Regions from separate parts of the Homo sapiens genome. Here region 2 is linked to region 1. The links come from fine-mapping of genetic effects on gene expression. Tissue or cell type: whole blood. Region 1 holds a variant in brackets; the other region holds the start of a gene. All regions are shown on one strand. Distances are between the middles of the regions.

The links. PIP is the estimated chance that this variant, and not a neighbour inherited with it, causes the effect.
Region 2: it holds the start of ANKRD39, and the variant in region 1 is fine-mapped to the expression of ANKRD39 in whole blood (TOPMed, PIP 0.96).

What each region holds. Positions count from the first base shown.
Region 1 is chr2:96,833,065-96,841,235 of GRCh38, reverse strand. CNNM3 (cyclin and CBS domain divalent metal cation transport mediator 3) reads right to left here. Exons shown (of 8, transcript NM_017623.5): 8 at 5,854-8,171. It overlaps ANKRD23 (ankyrin repeat domain 23), which reads left to right. Exons shown (of 9, transcript NM_144994.8): 4 at 324-449; 5 at 722-820; 6 at 906-1,004; 7 at 1,141-1,239; 8 at 1,411-1,509; 9 at 1,592-3,324. The coding sequence ends at 1,687. It overlaps LOC124907859 (a long non-coding RNA gene), which reads left to right and starts at 6,847. Exons shown (of 2, transcript XR_007087143.1): 1 at 6,847-7,925. RefSeq lists silencers at 1,361-1,460, 1,601-1,660 and enhancers at 2,800-3,354, 3,355-3,911, 7,459-8,078, 7,741-8,171. The variant G/A (reference allele first, on the strand shown) is at 5,004.
Region 2 is chr2:96,853,083-96,861,253 of GRCh38, reverse strand. It overlaps ANKRD39 (ankyrin repeat domain 39), which reads left to right and starts at 3,238. Exons shown (of 4, transcript NM_016466.6): 1 at 3,238-3,366; 2 at 6,813-6,916; 3 at 7,650-7,853. The coding sequence starts at 3,267. SEMA4C (semaphorin 4C) reads left to right here. Exons shown (of 15, transcript NM_017789.5): 15 at 1-1,536. The coding sequence ends at 628. RefSeq lists silencers at 2,708-3,377, 3,408-3,577.

The DNA.
Region 1 (8,171 bases):
ACCATACGCCGGTGTGACCTCATCTTAACTAATTACATCCTCAGTGACTCTGTTTCCAAATAAGGTCACATTCTGAGGTACCTGGGGTTAGTACTTCATACGAATCTTGGGGAGATACAAGTCAATCCATAACACACACGCTCACACACACACAGTCTATTCAATCTCCTGGCGTGGGATTAGAATAAGAAACTGCATTAGTACGAGCCAGCAGTGTTCCTTGGTGGGCTGCATGGGACCCGTGGGCCAGACTGGTGAAGCTGTGACATCTTGGGCACCTGCGGCCTTCGGGAGTGATTTGGTCTTGTCTTCAACTGAACCAGCCGCAGTCCCAGGCCCAGGTGGAGCCTGTGGGCCTGGAGATGTTCCTGAAGGCAGCTGCTGAGAACCAGGAGTACCTGATTGACAAGTACTTGACAGACGGAGGGGACCCCAATGCCCATGACAAGGTAGCACAGGTTGGGTGAGTCGGCTGGCAGCAGCTGCAGCTGCAGGAGCGCTGCCTTCAGTGTGTTCAAGTCCTGGCCTAGGAGGCTGCAGGGATTTTCACTCTTATGGGCATGAATCCAGTGGCACCTGCAGACGGAGGAGAGGGAGCGGCCCATCGCGTGGTGGGGGAAGTGGCAATTCCATTCAGGGACCTGGCCCTGGGAAGGGGACCGCGTGGGGTCTCTAGGGGTGGCTGCACTCCCTCTGCCTAATCTTCCATCTCTGCCCTCAGCTCCACCGCACCGCCTTGCACTGGGCCTGTCTGAAGGGTCACAGCCAGCTGGTGAACAAGCTGCTGGTGGCAGGTGCCACAGTGGACGCGCGAGACTTGGTGAGGATGGGGAAAGGCCCAGCCTCTGGTCGACGCCCAGCTTCACATCCCAGCAGCTGAGTGCTTGGGTGCTTTTGTTTTGCAGCTGGACAGGACACCTGTGTTCTGGGCCTGCCGCGGAGGACATCTGGTCATCCTCAAACAGCTGCTTAACCAGGGAGCCCGGGTCAATGCCCGGGACAAGGTGAGGGGCACGGTGCTTTGGGGGCCTGTCGGGAACACGGGAGCAGACGCTGTTCCTGGAGAAGAGAGCACGTAGTCCCATGGGTTAGGGAGGCCTCACCAATCCAGACCCAGCACTGACCCCCACTTGCTCTCAGATCGGGAGCACCCCCCTGCACGTGGCAGTGCGCACCCGGCACCCCGACTGCCTGGAGCACCTCATCGAGTGTGGCGCCCACCTGAACGCACAGGATAAGGTAAGGCAGGCGCTTGGTCTTTTCCGGCTCGGACAGCTCCAGAGGAGCAGGGACTGAGGAGCCCCAGCCAGGACCAGAGGTGCTGTCTGCTCGGTGACAGCAGCCCTGACCTTCCTGCATGAGGAGGGCAGCACGCGGAGGCAGAAGCTTGACTGCCTGCGTTCTCAGCAGGAAGGGGACACGGCTCTGCACGAGGCCGTGCGGCACGGCAGCTACAAAGCCATGAAGCTACTGCTGCTCTATGGGGCCGAGCTGGGGGTGCGGAACGCGGTGAGTGTGGGCGCAGCCCTGGCTCCTGACCCGAGGGCGGGTGGAGCGCCTGCAAGGGACTGACCCACACCGTTGCTCCCAGGCCTCCGTGACCCCGGTGCAGCTGGCTCGAGACTGGCAGCGCGGCATCCGGGAGGCCCTGCAGGCCCACGTGGCGCATCCCCGCACCCGGTGCTGACCGCAGCACCGCCCCCCGCCGCGCCTTTCGCACTGCCACCATTCCATCCTGTGCCCCGCCCCCGCGTCTGCACCTCTGTGGTTCCTGCCCTCAGCCCTGGTTCCTCCCTCTCTGGCCTGTGCCGCCTCAGCAGCCCTGGCAGAACTGAAGAGCGGCACCGGGCCCAGCAGGCAAAGAGAGAGGCCTCCCTGGCTTCGAGTGTCAGGGGAGCCGCGTTCCCTCCCAGGGCTGGAGCAGAGGACCACAAGGCAGCAGAAAGCGCGGGTCCAGATGAGGGCCAGGAAGGGGAGGAGAGTGAGGGCCAAGAACGAGCCTTAAGGGAGCAGTCCCAAGCTGGAGCCACCCAGGGCTGGGTCTGGGAGTCCTCAGTGTCCACTTGTCCCAGGTTAGGGGGCTTGCCTTGCTCTCTCCAGGGCCAGTCTGTGTGTGTGGGGACTCAGCCCGTGGCCGGCAGATGCCATCCAGGATGTACAAGGTGCAGCCAAGGCAGGCCATGCAGGGGCCGGGCCTGTCTGCAGCTGGTGGATGCCTGTGGGCATGGCTTTCTCTGGGGACCCCATTCCTGTCAGTAGCAACCCTGGCAGTGTCCGGAGCGGCTCTAGACAACTTTGGTCATAGGAACTCTGGAGGTGGGTTCTGGTCATCTGAGGTGGCTACTCAACAGGTTTGAGGCCCCACAGCAACAGAAGTCCAGGACCCACTAGGTTGCCTCAGAAGCCCTAAGACTGATGAGCTGGAGCGCGCATTTGAGAGAAGCCTCGCACCCACTGTGTACTGGCCCCGCTCAGGCCGGCCTGGCACACCGTTGCCTGCTGGCGGCTCTCATGGGGAAGCGCCTGGGCACTGGGGATTGCTTGTGGCCCACTCAACTCTTGGGGCAGTGGCCCGTAACCCTAGTTTGCCTGAGGCCCTTATGTCCCCTTATGTTCCTGGTACTGGAGCTTGAGCTCTTGCCTGGAACGCTGCAGCTGCACCCACCCTGCTTGATCCCACCTGGGAGGCCAGGACACTGAGGAGCTCTGAACCCAGCCCACAGGGAAGCAGAGGAAGGTGAGCCCCCGCCGCCCCCCAGCCCTTCCCATCCCTTCCCTGCTCCCTGGTGGTCTAAGGACCCAAGCTCCCTAGACTTCCTCTTCCACCGTCTGTACGTTTCAAATTACACTGGTGTAGGCCTGTACTGCTGGTGGGGCTGGGCCCCTAAACGCCAGAAAGTGAATCTTAAGAAGCTCTGCCCTAAACTGAGAACCACATGCTGAGGGAAGGGCTGAAAGGTGAAGGCTCAGCCTCCCTCACATGGGTCCTGGGTTACATTAGGTACCGGGCTGATTGATAGGCATTTGGCCATGGTTCCTTTTCGTCTACCTTTGGGGGCCTTCTCAGGCCCAGAACAAGGCTGTTGTTACTATGTGGAAAAGCTGACCAGTGCTGCACACTAGGGGCACACACCTTTCCATGAGCAGCTCCTGCCCTGTGGCGACAGCCAGCGTGCACCCAGACGCTGGTGCCATGGCGAAGCAGGCGTTCAAGACCATGGAGAAGACAACTCCTCATCTAGAAAATGAGGACACCTCAGTGACAAACACACCTTTTTATACCAATCAGTATCCTCTGTTCATTAAAACTGGCTATCCATTACAGCCTAGCCGTCTTTCCTGGGCCGAGAGGAGCCCATGCTTCAGTCACCAGGGACTGTCTGATAGGGCCCACGCCTGTTAGCCATGCCGGCCGACAGCAAGATAGGCCGAGTGCAGAGTGGGCGGGATGCGGGGTCCTGGCACTAGGCTTTTGTGCTTAAGGCACCTCTGCTCACTGACGACAAGGTCAAAGAGCAGTGGTTCTCCACCTCAGCTGCTTATCAGAATCACCAGGAAGGTTTAAAAAGTCCTGATGTCCAGACCCTAAGTCAGAAGCCCTGAGGGGAGGATCCAGGTATTCTCATGCAGAGGCCATGCTTGTCTATGTGGGAAATCCTAGGAATCTACAGAAAGCAGACAACTAGGGAGTCCAGCAAAATCTCGGGTGCAAGATAAACACACAAAAACCTGTTTCTACCTCCTAGAAATGAACATGTAGACACAAAAGTTAAAAATATGTACTGTTTACAATTGCTGAAAAAGGGAAATACTTCGGTTTAAATCTAACAAAATATGCAAGGACTTGTATGCTGAAAATTATAAAACGTGATGAAATCAAAGATTTAAATAGACATGCCATGTTCATGGATTGCTAGACAGAATACAGTAAAGATATCAATTCTCCTCAAATTAACATACAGGTTAAATGCAGTTCCTATCAAAATCCTAGAAGATGTTTTGTAGATGTAGACAAGGTTATTCTAAAATTCATATACAAATTTATAGCAAAAATATTTTGAAAAAGAATAGAGTGAGAGGAGGAATCAGTCCAGCTGATTTCAAGATCTACTATATAGCTATGTGAACCAAGAGTGCAATGCTGGCAGAGGCACAGACACACAGATCGACAGAGCCGAGATCATCACGGGAACAGGACCACACAAATATGCCCAGCTGACTTTAAGGTGCAAAAGTAATTCAATGGAGGAAGGACAGCCTTTCAACAAACGGTGCTGGAGCAGCTGGACCAGCTATAGGATTAAAAAAAAAGAACTTTAGCCTAAGTCTTACACATTATACAAAAATTAACATGGCTCACATGCATACTTAAATTTAAAACTATAAAACTTCTTTTAGGAAAAAACAGATAACCTTTGGGATCTAAGACTAGGTAGAGTTGTTCTTAAATGCAACACTAAAAGCAACAGTCCATAAAGGAAATATCAGTAAAGTGGACTTTATCAAAACTGAAAACTTTTGCTCTGTATAAAACCCTGTTAAGAGGGTGAAAAGATGGCCGGGCACGGTGGCTCACACCTGTAATTGTAGTACTTTGGGAGGTTGAGGCAGGCAGATCACTTGAGCTCATGAGTTTGAGACCAGGTGTGGGCAACATGGTGAAACCCCATCTCTATAAAAAATTAGCTGGGCATAGGCTGGGCATGGTGGCTCATGCCTATAATTCCAGCACTTTGGTAGGCTGAGGCGGGCAGATCATCTGAGGTCAGGAGTTTGAGACCAGCCTGACCAACATGGAGAAACCCCATCTCTACTGAAAATACAAAATTAGCCAGGCGTGGTGGCACATGCCTGTAATCCCAGCTACTCGGGAGGCTGAGGCAGTAGAATCACTTGAACTGGGAGGCGGAGGTTGCAGTGAGCCGAGACCACGCCATTGAACTCCAGCCTGGGCAACAAGAGTGAAACTACATCTCAAAAAAAAAAAAAAAAAAAATTAGCTG[G/A]GTGTGGTGATAGTCCCATCTACATGGGGAGCTGAAGAGGGAGAACTGCTTGAGTCCAGAAGTCAAGTATACAGTGAGCCAAGATTGTGCCACTGCACTCCACCATGGGTGACAAAGTGAGACTCTGTCTCAGGAAAAAAAAAAGGGGGGGAGGGGGAGGGGTGAAAAAGATAAGCTACAGACCAATGGAAACCAAAAATCCCATAAAGGAATCTCAAAGAACTCTCAAAACTCAACAGAAGAAACAATCCAATCAGAAAATGGGTGAAAGACAGGAATATTCCACTGAAGCGAAACACAGGTGTCCACCACTGGGAAATGCAAATGAAAAACCACCGTGAGGCATCACGACACACCTGTCAGAACGGCTGAAGTAAAAACATGTGGACACCACTAAGTGCTGTGGAGGATTCAGGGAAACTGATCATCCTAGGTTGCCGGTGAGGACATGAGTTTGACAGTTTGTGGCCAGGTGCGGTGGCTCACGCCTGTAATCCCAGAACTTTGGGAGGCTGAGGCGGGCAGATCACGAAGTCAGGAGATCGAGACCATCCTGGCTAACATGGTGAAACCCCGTCTCTACTAAAAATACAAAAAACTAGCCGGGCGTGGTGGCGGGCGCCTGTAGTCCCAGCTATGGGGAGGCTGAGGCAGGAGAATGGCATGAACCCGGGAGGCAGAGCTTGCAGTGAGCCGAGACTGCGCCACTGCACTCCAGCCTGGGCAAAAGAGTGAGACTCCGTCTCAAAAAAAAAAAAAAAAAGTTTGATTGTTTAAAAAACGAAACATGCAACAACCCTATGACCAAGCATTTACACTCCTCGAAAACTAATCCTGACACAGAAACCTGTACATGAATAGTCGTAGCAGCTTTATTTGGAATAGCCCCAAACTGGAAACATCCCAGGTGTCCTTCAGGGGGCCAATGCATACACCACGGAATACCACTCAGCAATAAAAAGGAGCAAACTGTTGACACATGCAATGCCTGGATGATCTCCCGAGAATGACGCCGAGTGAAAAAAGACAATCCCGAATGCTTACACACTATGCTCCCATTTATACAACATTCTTGAAATGACAAAATAAGAAGAGATGAACGATTAGTGGTTACCAGGAGTTAGGGAAGGTGGGGAGGGAGATCCTTGTGGGGATGGGACTTCTTTATCCTGATTGCAGTGGTAGTTACACAGATGTACATGTGACAAATGATTTGGACTGTCCACCCACATCGCACCAGTGTCAGAGTCTTTGTTGGAATACTGCATTACAACCATATAAGATGTAACCATGGAGGGAAACTAGATGAAGGGTGCGTGGGGCCCTTACCTTTACAACTTCCTATCATCTGAAATTATTTCAAAATATAAAGTTAGGAAAAAAGAAAGCAACAGCTCTAAGTGCAGTATGGCATCCTGGATTGGCTGCTGCAGCAGAAAAGGGACATTGGGAAAAATGGTAAAATCCAAATAAACTCTAGCTATTAGTATGATTGCACCTTTAGTTTTGATAAATGTACCAAGGTTATATGTAAGCTGTTAACATTAGGGGAACCTGGGTGAAAGGTGTATGAAACTTCTGTGAATCTGGGCACGGTGGCTCACGCCTATAATCTCAACACTTTGGGAGGCCGAGGCAGGAGGATCGCTTGAGCCTAGGAGTTCGAGACTACCCCAGGCAACATAATGAGACCCTATCTCTACAAAAAAAAATTAAAAGTATTAGCTGGGTGTGGTGGTGCCTACCTGTAGTCCCTACTACTCAGGAGGCTGAGGTGGCAGGATGGCCTGAACCAGGGAGGTCGAGGCTGCAGCAAGCCGTGATCACACCACTGCACTCCAGTCTGGGCGACAGAGCAAGATCTTGTCTCAATAATAATAATAATAATAATAATAATAATAAATAAATAAAAAATTGAAAACTCTGATGCCGACTCTGATTAAATCACAAGCTCTGGTGGCAGGTCCACGTATTTTTAATTTGCCAGGTGATTCTGGTGTGCAGCCAAGGTTAAGAATCCCTGATCTTAGCTCACACCTATAATCCCAGCACTTTGGGAGGCCAAGGCAGGCAGATCACCTGAGGTCAGGAGTTCAAGATCAGCCTGGCCAACATGGTGAAACCCCATCTCTACTAAAAATACAAAAATTAGCCGGGTGTGGTGGTGGGCACCTGTAATCCCAGCTACTCAGGGGGCTGAGACAGGAGAATGGCTTGAACCTGGGAGGTGGAGGTTGCAGTGAGCCAAGATCTCACCACTGCACTCCAGCCTGGGTGACAGAGTGAGACTCCATCTCAAATAAACAAACAAAAAACCACTGTTCTGGAGAGAGGATTTTAAAGCATCTGTTTCCAACCCGGGCTTGCTCTCAGAGTTTATTCCTTGAGGACAATTTCTAAGCAAGGATATCACTGTTGTTTTGACCTTCAGTCCCATTTATAAGGGTCCAAATTCCTTTGAGAAAAGTTCCAGAAATCCTCCTCCCTCCCTACCCAATCTATGATCCTATGTCCTTGTGATGCCCGTTTCCACACAGCTGAAGAACTACGGAAGGAAAATGTAGTAAACTAGAAGAAAAAGACAAATGCCTTCCTGTTCCCACTTCTCTAAAACCCCATAGCTAGGAACAGAAAAAAAGGAAAAGACTTGAAATGTTCTAGAGATATAACAAAAACTTTTTTTTTTTTAAAGAGGATCCACCTGGTTCATGAACCCTCCCTCACTGCTCTCTGCACATCACGGCCACACAGCACCTGCAGGGAGGCTGTGGGGAGGTGTGGAGCAGGTGCAACAGGCAGCTACTCTCCTGGGGGCCACACGGCGGAGAGAGGATTCGATGCAGCATGACGATCCCTTCCTCCCAGGCATGACCTCTTCTCAGAACACGGGAACTGACAACACTGCGAGTGGCAACTCAGCAGGTGGGCAGAGAAGCAGAAAGGGGCCCTCAGCACCACTAGGCCAGCTCTCAGAATCAGAAGAGCAGCCTCCAGGGAGGGAGCAGGGCTACAGGGACAGCCTACGGGCAGTGGAGCTTCTGGTTTGGCACATGGGAAAGGCTGGGGCGCATGCGCTGAAACATGACACCATCAGGGAAGCCAGAAAGGACAACATGGACAAGGCCATCGATCTGAACCCCCAGCCAAAATGGGTGCTCTCGGCTTGCT
Region 2 (8,171 bases), 20 kb before region 1:
CCACTGCTTTTCAGAGGAGCAGGGGGCGCGGCTGGCTGCTGAAGGCTACCTTGTGGCTGTCGTGGCAGGCCCGTCGGTGACCTTGGAGGCCCGGGCCCCCCTGGAAAACCTGGGGCTGGTGTGGCTGGCGGTGGTGGCCCTGGGGGCTGTGTGCCTGGTGCTGCTGCTGCTGGTGCTGTCATTGCGCCGGCGGCTGCGGGAAGAGCTGGAGAAAGGGGCCAAGGCTACTGAGAGGACCTTGGTGTACCCCCTGGAGCTGCCCAAGGAGCCCACCAGTCCCCCCTTCCGGCCCTGTCCTGAACCAGATGAGAAACTTTGGGATCCTGTCGGTTACTACTATTCAGATGGCTCCCTTAAGATAGTACCTGGGCATGCCCGGTGCCAGCCCGGTGGGGGGCCCCCTTCGCCACCTCCAGGCATCCCAGGCCAGCCTCTGCCTTCTCCAACTCGGCTTCACCTGGGGGGTGGGCGGAACTCAAATGCCAATGGTTACGTGCGCTTACAACTAGGAGGGGAGGACCGGGGAGGGCTCGGGCACCCCCTGCCTGAGCTCGCGGATGAACTGAGACGCAAACTGCAGCAACGCCAGCCACTGCCCGACTCCAACCCCGAGGAGTCATCAGTATGAGGGGAACCCCCACCGCGTCGGCGGGAAGCGTGGGAGGTGTAGCTCCTACTTTTGCACAGGCACCAGCTACCTCAGGGACATGGCACGGGCACCTGCTCTGTCTGGGACAGATACTGCCCAGCACCCACCCGGCCATGAGGACCTGCTCTGCTCAGCACGGGCACTGCCACTTGGTGTGGCTCACCAGGGCACCAGCCTCGCAGAAGGCATCTTCCTCCTCTCTGTGAATCACAGACACGCGGGACCCCAGCCGCCAAAACTTTTCAAGGCAGAAGTTTCAAGATGTGTGTTTGTCTGTATTTGCACATGTGTTTGTGTGTGTGTGTATGTGTGTGTGCACGCGCGTGCGCGCTTGTGGCATAGCCTTCCTGTTTCTGTCAAGTCTTCCCTTGGCCTGGGTCCTCCTGGTGAGTCATTGGAGCTATGAAGGGGAAGGGGTCGTATCACTTTGTCTCTCCTACCCCCACTGCCCCGAGTGTCGGGCAGCGATGTACATATGGAGGTGGGGTGGACAGGGTGCTGTGCCCCTTCAGAGGGAGTGCAGGGCTTGGGGTGGGCCTAGTCCTGCTCCTAGGGCTGTGAATGTTTTCAGGGTGGGGGGAGGGAGATGGAGCCTCCTGTGTGTTTGGGGGGAAGGGTGGGTGGGGCCTCCCACTTGGCCCCGGGGTTCAGTGGTATTTTATACTTGCCTTCTTCCTGTACAGGGCTGGGAAAGGCTGTGTGAGGGGAGAGAAGGGAGAGGGTGGGCCTGCTGTGGACAATGGCATACTCTCTTCCAGCCCTAGGAGGAGGGCTCCTAACAGTGTAACTTATTGTGTCCCCGCGTATTTATTTGTTGTAAATATTTGAGTATTTTTATATTGACAAATAAAATGGAGAAAATGAAACGATTGCTCTGATGGGGCTAAGATGTTTGGGCTAAAGCCTTTCTGGGTACCAAGAGGGAAGGCTCTCTGGGTGGAGGGAGGCTGGACTGGGCCTCCCCCACAATCCCAGGGCAGCCACCACTTTTGTGGTCCCTGCCTGCCTGTGGGAGGGGACAGCCCAGCTCTAGTGTTTTCCCACAGTGGTGGCTGCGGGGCTGGGAACGAGACCATGGCCATAGCCCCTTGGGAGCCAGCCTTGGCTTCTGGCCAGAAGGAGAAGTCAGGGCACTGGGAGTCCAGGGGAGAAGCGGAGTGGTGGGGGGGGTGCCTTCCCAGAACTCAAGACGGGTAGTGGGAATGAGGGGCCAAAGGAGTGGAAGGTTGTGGAGATGAGATCATTGCTTGTGTGAGGATGGGGTTCTCAACCTGCTTAGGGGAGGAGAAACGACTTCCAGCCTTCTACCCACCAGGAATGCTAGGGTCTTCCGTGCCCCAACTAGCGGGGGAAGGAACTTACATCCAGTGTGCACCAGACCACTGTCCTGGAGAGGGACTGGCACAGAACCCAACCTGCATTCTGTCGTTCATGCACTCTTTCTAAGCCGATCAGGCGGTCTCCCCTGTACACTTGATCGTGGCTTGAGCAGGCAGCTGCCTGGGTTTTAACTGGGAATTGAGAAGGCTGGGGTCCGCTGAGGAGCACGCTGCGAAGGTGCGCGGTCCGCAGACGGCCTCCCGGTGGGTTTTGATCATGAAGACCGATTCCGTAAACTCAGCGCCCACTGTGGGGCCAGGGGGTTCTGCACAAACCAAGGCCCTGCCCCTGCCCTGAGGTGGAGCTACAGGCAGGACAAGTTGTGGCCACCTGCCCCTTGCTGGACTTGTAAGGAAGAGCAGGGTACGGGGAGGGGCGTCTCGAGGCCTTTCCAGCCGTCACTTTGCCGCTGCCCCGGGGGCGGTCGGCCTTGGTCCGGGGTGGTGCCAGGAAGAGGGGCTAAAAACCGTGGAGCGCGCCCCGGCCCGATGGCTCACGCCTGTAATCCCAGCACTTTGGGAGGCCAAGGTGAGCGGATCACGAGGTCAAGAGATCGAGACCATCCTGGCGAAACCCCGTCTCTACTAAAAAATACAAAAAATTAGCCGGGCGTGGTGGCGGGCGCCTGTAGTCCCAGCTACTCAGGAGTCTGACGCAGGAGAATCGCTTGAACCCGGGAGGCGGAGGTTGCAGTGAGCCGAGATCGCGCCACTGCACACAAGTCTGGGTGACAGCGAGACTCCGTCTCAAAAAAAAAAAAAAAAAAAAAAAAGACCGCGGAGCGCGTGGCGCCTCCCTGCCCTAGGGACTAGGGGCGGTAAAGAGAGGAGGCTGCGAGGTCGCTGGACGGCTGGGTCATGGCGAAGGTAACGGGAAAGCTCCCGACCGGACCCAGCTGCCTCATCCCCACACCCTGCAAGGCCAGGCGGCCCGGCGGCCCTCCAGCGGCGCGCGGCTCCCGGAACCCAGCGCCTCAGTCCTCGCTTGGCCTTGGACGCCCTCGCGCGGAGGCCTCGGGGCACGGCCGGGCGCAACAAGCCCCGCCCTACCGTTGCAATTGGTTCTCGAGCTAAGGCCTAGGCGTTTGATTGGTCAGCTTTGGCGAGAAGGCGGGACTAGGGCGACAGCCGCGGACGCCGAGCGGCCAGATCAGGGACGCGGGGCGGGCCCTGCGTCCGCCCCTCCCGCCGAGGCTGAGCCTGAGACCCGGGGCGGATCGACTGACGCCGGGGCCGGGATGGCGACGCCTCGGCCCTGCGCGGACGGGCCCTGCTGCTCGCATCCCAGCGCGGTGCTCGGCGTACAGCAGACGCTGGAGGAGATGGACTTCGAGAGGGGTGAGGCTGCCGCGCGGCCCTCGTGGTTCTCACCAGGCCCCGGCCCAAGGAGGAGGCGTGGGGCCAAGGAGAGGCGGATGAACGGGGCCCCGAGAGCTTGGGGCTTGGGGCTTGGGGCCTGGTGCGGGAAGGCGGGCGGGACCCACGGTTCCCGTGTACTGAGAGCCTCCCAGGGCCCCGCACGAGCTCGGCCAGGAGACACCTGTCCCGCGGGCGGCGGGGAAGCGGAAGCACTGGTTTCCGTAACCCTCCCGAGTAGCGGGGGACGACCTCCCCTGGGAGACACAAGCCTGCTCAGGTGTTTGAGAGAGGGCCCGGGGAGCAGAATCTGCACCAGGGGCATTGCACCCAACCTGAGGGGCATGGAGCTGCAGGCCTGGGGGCTGCGCGGTGAAGGAGAGCAGTGGCCTTTGTTTAGCCCCGGGTGCCAGGCAGCCTGCATGCTTTAAAGATGGCAAGAGCTTCGCACGGGCAGCCTTCGAGGCAGGGCACAGTATCTCATCTGTGGGACCCAGAGAGGTAACACGTTTGGCCCAGATTATACAGAGATTATGGTGCCAATAGGAACAGAGGAAGGCGGGAAACCAGGGTGCTTCTTGTGAGCGTTGGGAACCACTGTGCTGTGTCATCTGCCCTTGCGGATGCAGCCCTCGATTGCCACTGCTGTGTAAGCATTCTCATGGAACTCTTCCTTTACCGTGGTTCTGGCACCTGCCTACTTCCCTCCGCCCCTCCTACCGCTGTCCTCTGCACTGCTGAAGTGGTTGCCTCAGAGGGTCTTTCTGCTTCCACGCTTGCCTTCCTACAGGGTTTTCTACTCTCACATAGCAGCCAGAGCGGCTTTTTGAAAATTAGAAATCACATCATTCCCTGTTATGGCCTACAAAGCTCTGTAGACCCACCCCTGCCGGTTCTACTTCTCCTCCTCATTTTATTTCTCATGCTTTTCTTCCCCCAATCACTACGCCGCAGCCACACTGGTCTTGTTTTGGTGTCTCAAATATGCAAGACCTTTTCCTGAGTTAAGGCCGTTGGACTTGCTGTCCCATCTCCTTAGAATGAACTTCCTACAACCGTTAAGCTAGCTGATGCTTTTCTTCAGATCCCAGCTCCAATGTCATCTCCTCAGAGACCCTCCCTAAACACCCCAGTTCTCAACTGGGGGCAGTTCTGCCCTTTAAGGGACTTTGAATATCTGGAGACATTTTGGGTTGTCACAATCAGGAGGGTGCTACAGGCGTGTAGTAGGTAGAGATGAGAGATGCTGTATACATGGTACAATGCACAGGACAGCTCGCTACAATAATCATCCGGCCCGTAAGTGTCAATTGTGCTGTTAAGAAGTAAACATTGCCTTATCCAAAGTTAGGCCAGTTACTCTGATGTATCCATCATCTTGCTTTTTTTTTTTTTTTTTTTGAGATGGAGTCTCCCTCTTTTGTCCAGGCTGGCGTGCAGTAGCGCAATCTCGGCTCACTGCAGCCTCCGCCTCCTGGGTTCAAGCGATTCTCCTATTCTCCTGAGTAGCTGAGATTACAGGCGTGTGCCACGACGCCCGGCTAGTTTTTGTATTTTTAGTAGAGACCGGGGTTTCACCATATTGGTCAGGCTGATCTCGGAACTCCTGACCTCATGATCTGCCCGCTTTGACCTCCCAAAGTGCTAGGATTACAGGCGTGAGCCACCGCACCCGGCATCTTGCTTTCATAAAAAACAATTTTTACCGCAAACAATTTCCTCATTTTTTTGTGCAAACAAATACATTCTTTAAAACATTAATGGGAAGAGTGTATTTGATAAGCCAGTTTTAGCTACTGTTGTCACAAATAAAAGAAACTGTGAGATTTGTTAATCCGCTTCACTACAGTAACTCTTTGTTGTTGTTGTTGTTGTTTTGTTGTTGTTGTTGTTGTTGAGTCGGAGTCTGGCTCTGTCCCCAGGCTTTAGTGGCGCAATCTCGGCTCACTGCAAGCTCCACCTCCCAGGTTCACGCCATTCTCCTGCCTCAGCCTCCCAAGTAGCTGGGACTACAGGCGCCCGCCACCATGCCCGGCTAATTTTGTTTTGTATTTTTAGTAGAGATGAGGTTTCACCATGTTAGCCAGGATGGTCTTGATCTCCTGACCTCGTGATCCGCACAGTAATATATCTTTTTTTTTTTTTTTGAGACGGAGTCTCGCTCTGTCGCCCAGGCTGGAGTGCAGTGGTGCGATCTTGGCTCACGGCAACCTCTGCCTCCTGGGTTCACGCGATTCTTCTGCCTCAGCCCCCTGAGTAGCTGGGACTACAGGCGCGTGCCACCAAGCCCAGCTAATTTTTGTATTTTTAGTAGAGACGGGGTTTTACTCTGTTAGCCAGGATGGTCTCGATCTCCTGACCTCGTGATCCACCCGCCTCGGCCTCCCAAAGTGCTGGGATTACAGGCGTGAGCCACTGCGCCTGGCCAATATTTTTCTATTTATCATTTTGTACTACATTTTGGGTGAATTCCAAATCACTAATTCTCTTTGACTAGGTCTGCAGTACTCTTTGACCCATCTATTGTTGTTGTTTTGTTTCAATGAGTCTGTTTTTTAATTTATCAACTTTCCTGTTTCAGATCTGGCTGTTTTGTTTTTCCTAATGTTCTGTTGATTTGTGGATTCTATCCCTTTGTCTCTGTGAACACCTTCAATGTTGTTGTTTTAAGGTCTTTTTTGGATTGTGCAATAATGGCTCACTTTGGAGGCATGCGTGTTCCCACTTGTATTTGCTAGTTGTTGTCTGTCGCCATGCCACCCTGAACTCCCCGAACTCCCCTCATCTCACCTATATTTGCTGATTGTCTCTTAGGGCAGCAGATTGCTTCTTGTTTTGCAACTTTCAGTCTTTGTGCTCACCAGGGAGATCCTCTTCTGTGGGAGATTGTCACACTGCCTTGGCAGCCTTCTGGAGGCATCATTATATTTTTTAAAAGTTGTTTCTGGCTGGGCACGGTGGCTCACGCCTGTAATCCCAGCACTTTGGGAGGCCAAGGCAAATGGATCACTTGAGGTCAGGAGTTCAAGGCCAGCCTGACCAACATGGTGAAACCCTGTCTCTACTAAAAATAGAAAAATTTGCTGGGCATGGTGGTGGGCGCCTGTAATCCCAGCCCGACCTGAATTTCACTCTAGATCCAAACATTTTAAACATTACTTCATCCAGCACTTCTGTGTTTGAAGTGGGATGGAGATGTCTGTGTCCGCCCAGTCCTACTGTCCTGATGAGATGTGCCCATCTGTCTTGTTCACAGCTAAGTCACCAGCATTCAGAACAAACCTTGACACAGAGGAGGTGCTCGGTTGATATTTGTTGAAGGAATGAATATTCTTCACTTTATAGACAAGAAAACTGAGGTCAAGAGGCAAAGCAAGCACTGAAACTCCCATTCAGCATCATTCAGTCCTTTGGTTGCCTTTCTGCAGGAATCTGGTCGGCAGCCCTGAATGGAGACCTGGGCCGAGTGAAGCATTTAATCCAGAAGGCCGAGGACCCAAGTCAGCCCGACTCGGCCGGCTACACTGCGCTGGTGAGCTAGGGAGGAGCACAGGGTCAGGAGACAGAAGCGTTAACTCAGGAGACACCTGCTCTCTGAGGAGGGGGACTGATGGTTACCTTTTACCTCCTCCCTCCCTTTCTTCTCTTCCAGCAAAATTTCTCTTTTTAAGCATCATATGAACCTGGATTTTTTAAATTAGTGTGAGACCTTTACATCAATAATTTAGGTTTTGTTTTGTTTTGAGATGAAGTCTTGCTCTGTTACCCAGGCTGGAGTGCAGTGATGCGATCTCAGCTCACTGCAACCTCCGCCTCCCAGGTTCAAGCGATTCTCCTGCCTCAGCCTCCTGAGTAGCTGAGACTACAGGCATGTGCCACCACACCCAGCTAATTTTTGTATTTTTAGTAGAGATGGGTTTTCACCATGTTGACCAGGCTGGTCTCGAACTCCTGACTTCAGGTGATCCGCCTGCCTCGGCCTCCCAAAGTGCTGGGATTACAGGCATGAGCCACTGCGCCCAGCCAATGATTTAGTTTTATTTTCGTAACAATTCTTTGAGATAGGAATGATCATTTTCCCCATTTTTCAATTGAACAAACTCAGGTTAGTCACGCAGAAGCTTGCCCAGGTCACACGACTGCTGGGGTTGGCACCTGAGATGATTCCAGGCCCCTCGCTGCAGGGAGGCCATGCTCTCACCTCTATACCACCCTTGTCACCTGCCTGGCTTCTCCCATCTGACCTCGGTCTCTGTTCCCTGCAGCACTATGCCAGCCGCAATGGGCACTACGCTGTGTGCCAGTTCCTGCTGGAAAGCGGAGCTAAGTGTGATGCCCAGACCCACGGGGGTGCCACTGCTCTGCACCGAGCCAGCTACTGCGGGCACACTGAAATCGCGCGGCTCCTGCTATCACATGGGTCCAACCCCAGGGTGGTGGATGACGACGGCATGACCAGTCTGCATAAGGTGGGCCCGTTCCCCCTTCCAAAAATGTCGTTTCCTTATTTTTAAAGTTATAACATGTTCATGTAGAAAACATGGGGAAAACAGGAAATCAGAGAGAAGACAGTTAAAATCATTTGTAATTCCCTTGCTCACCTGTCATCACTTTAGGACTAATGGGTAATTCTCCAGCCTTTTTTCTGAGCGTGTAAATTAAAATGTACAGTGGCACTTTAGTTTTCTTTCCCTTAGAGACATGTCATGAAGCCTTTTCCATATAGTTTTCTGAAACTTATACATACTCTTGCCTGTTCCTGTAGTCCACTTGCTATATGTTAGCCG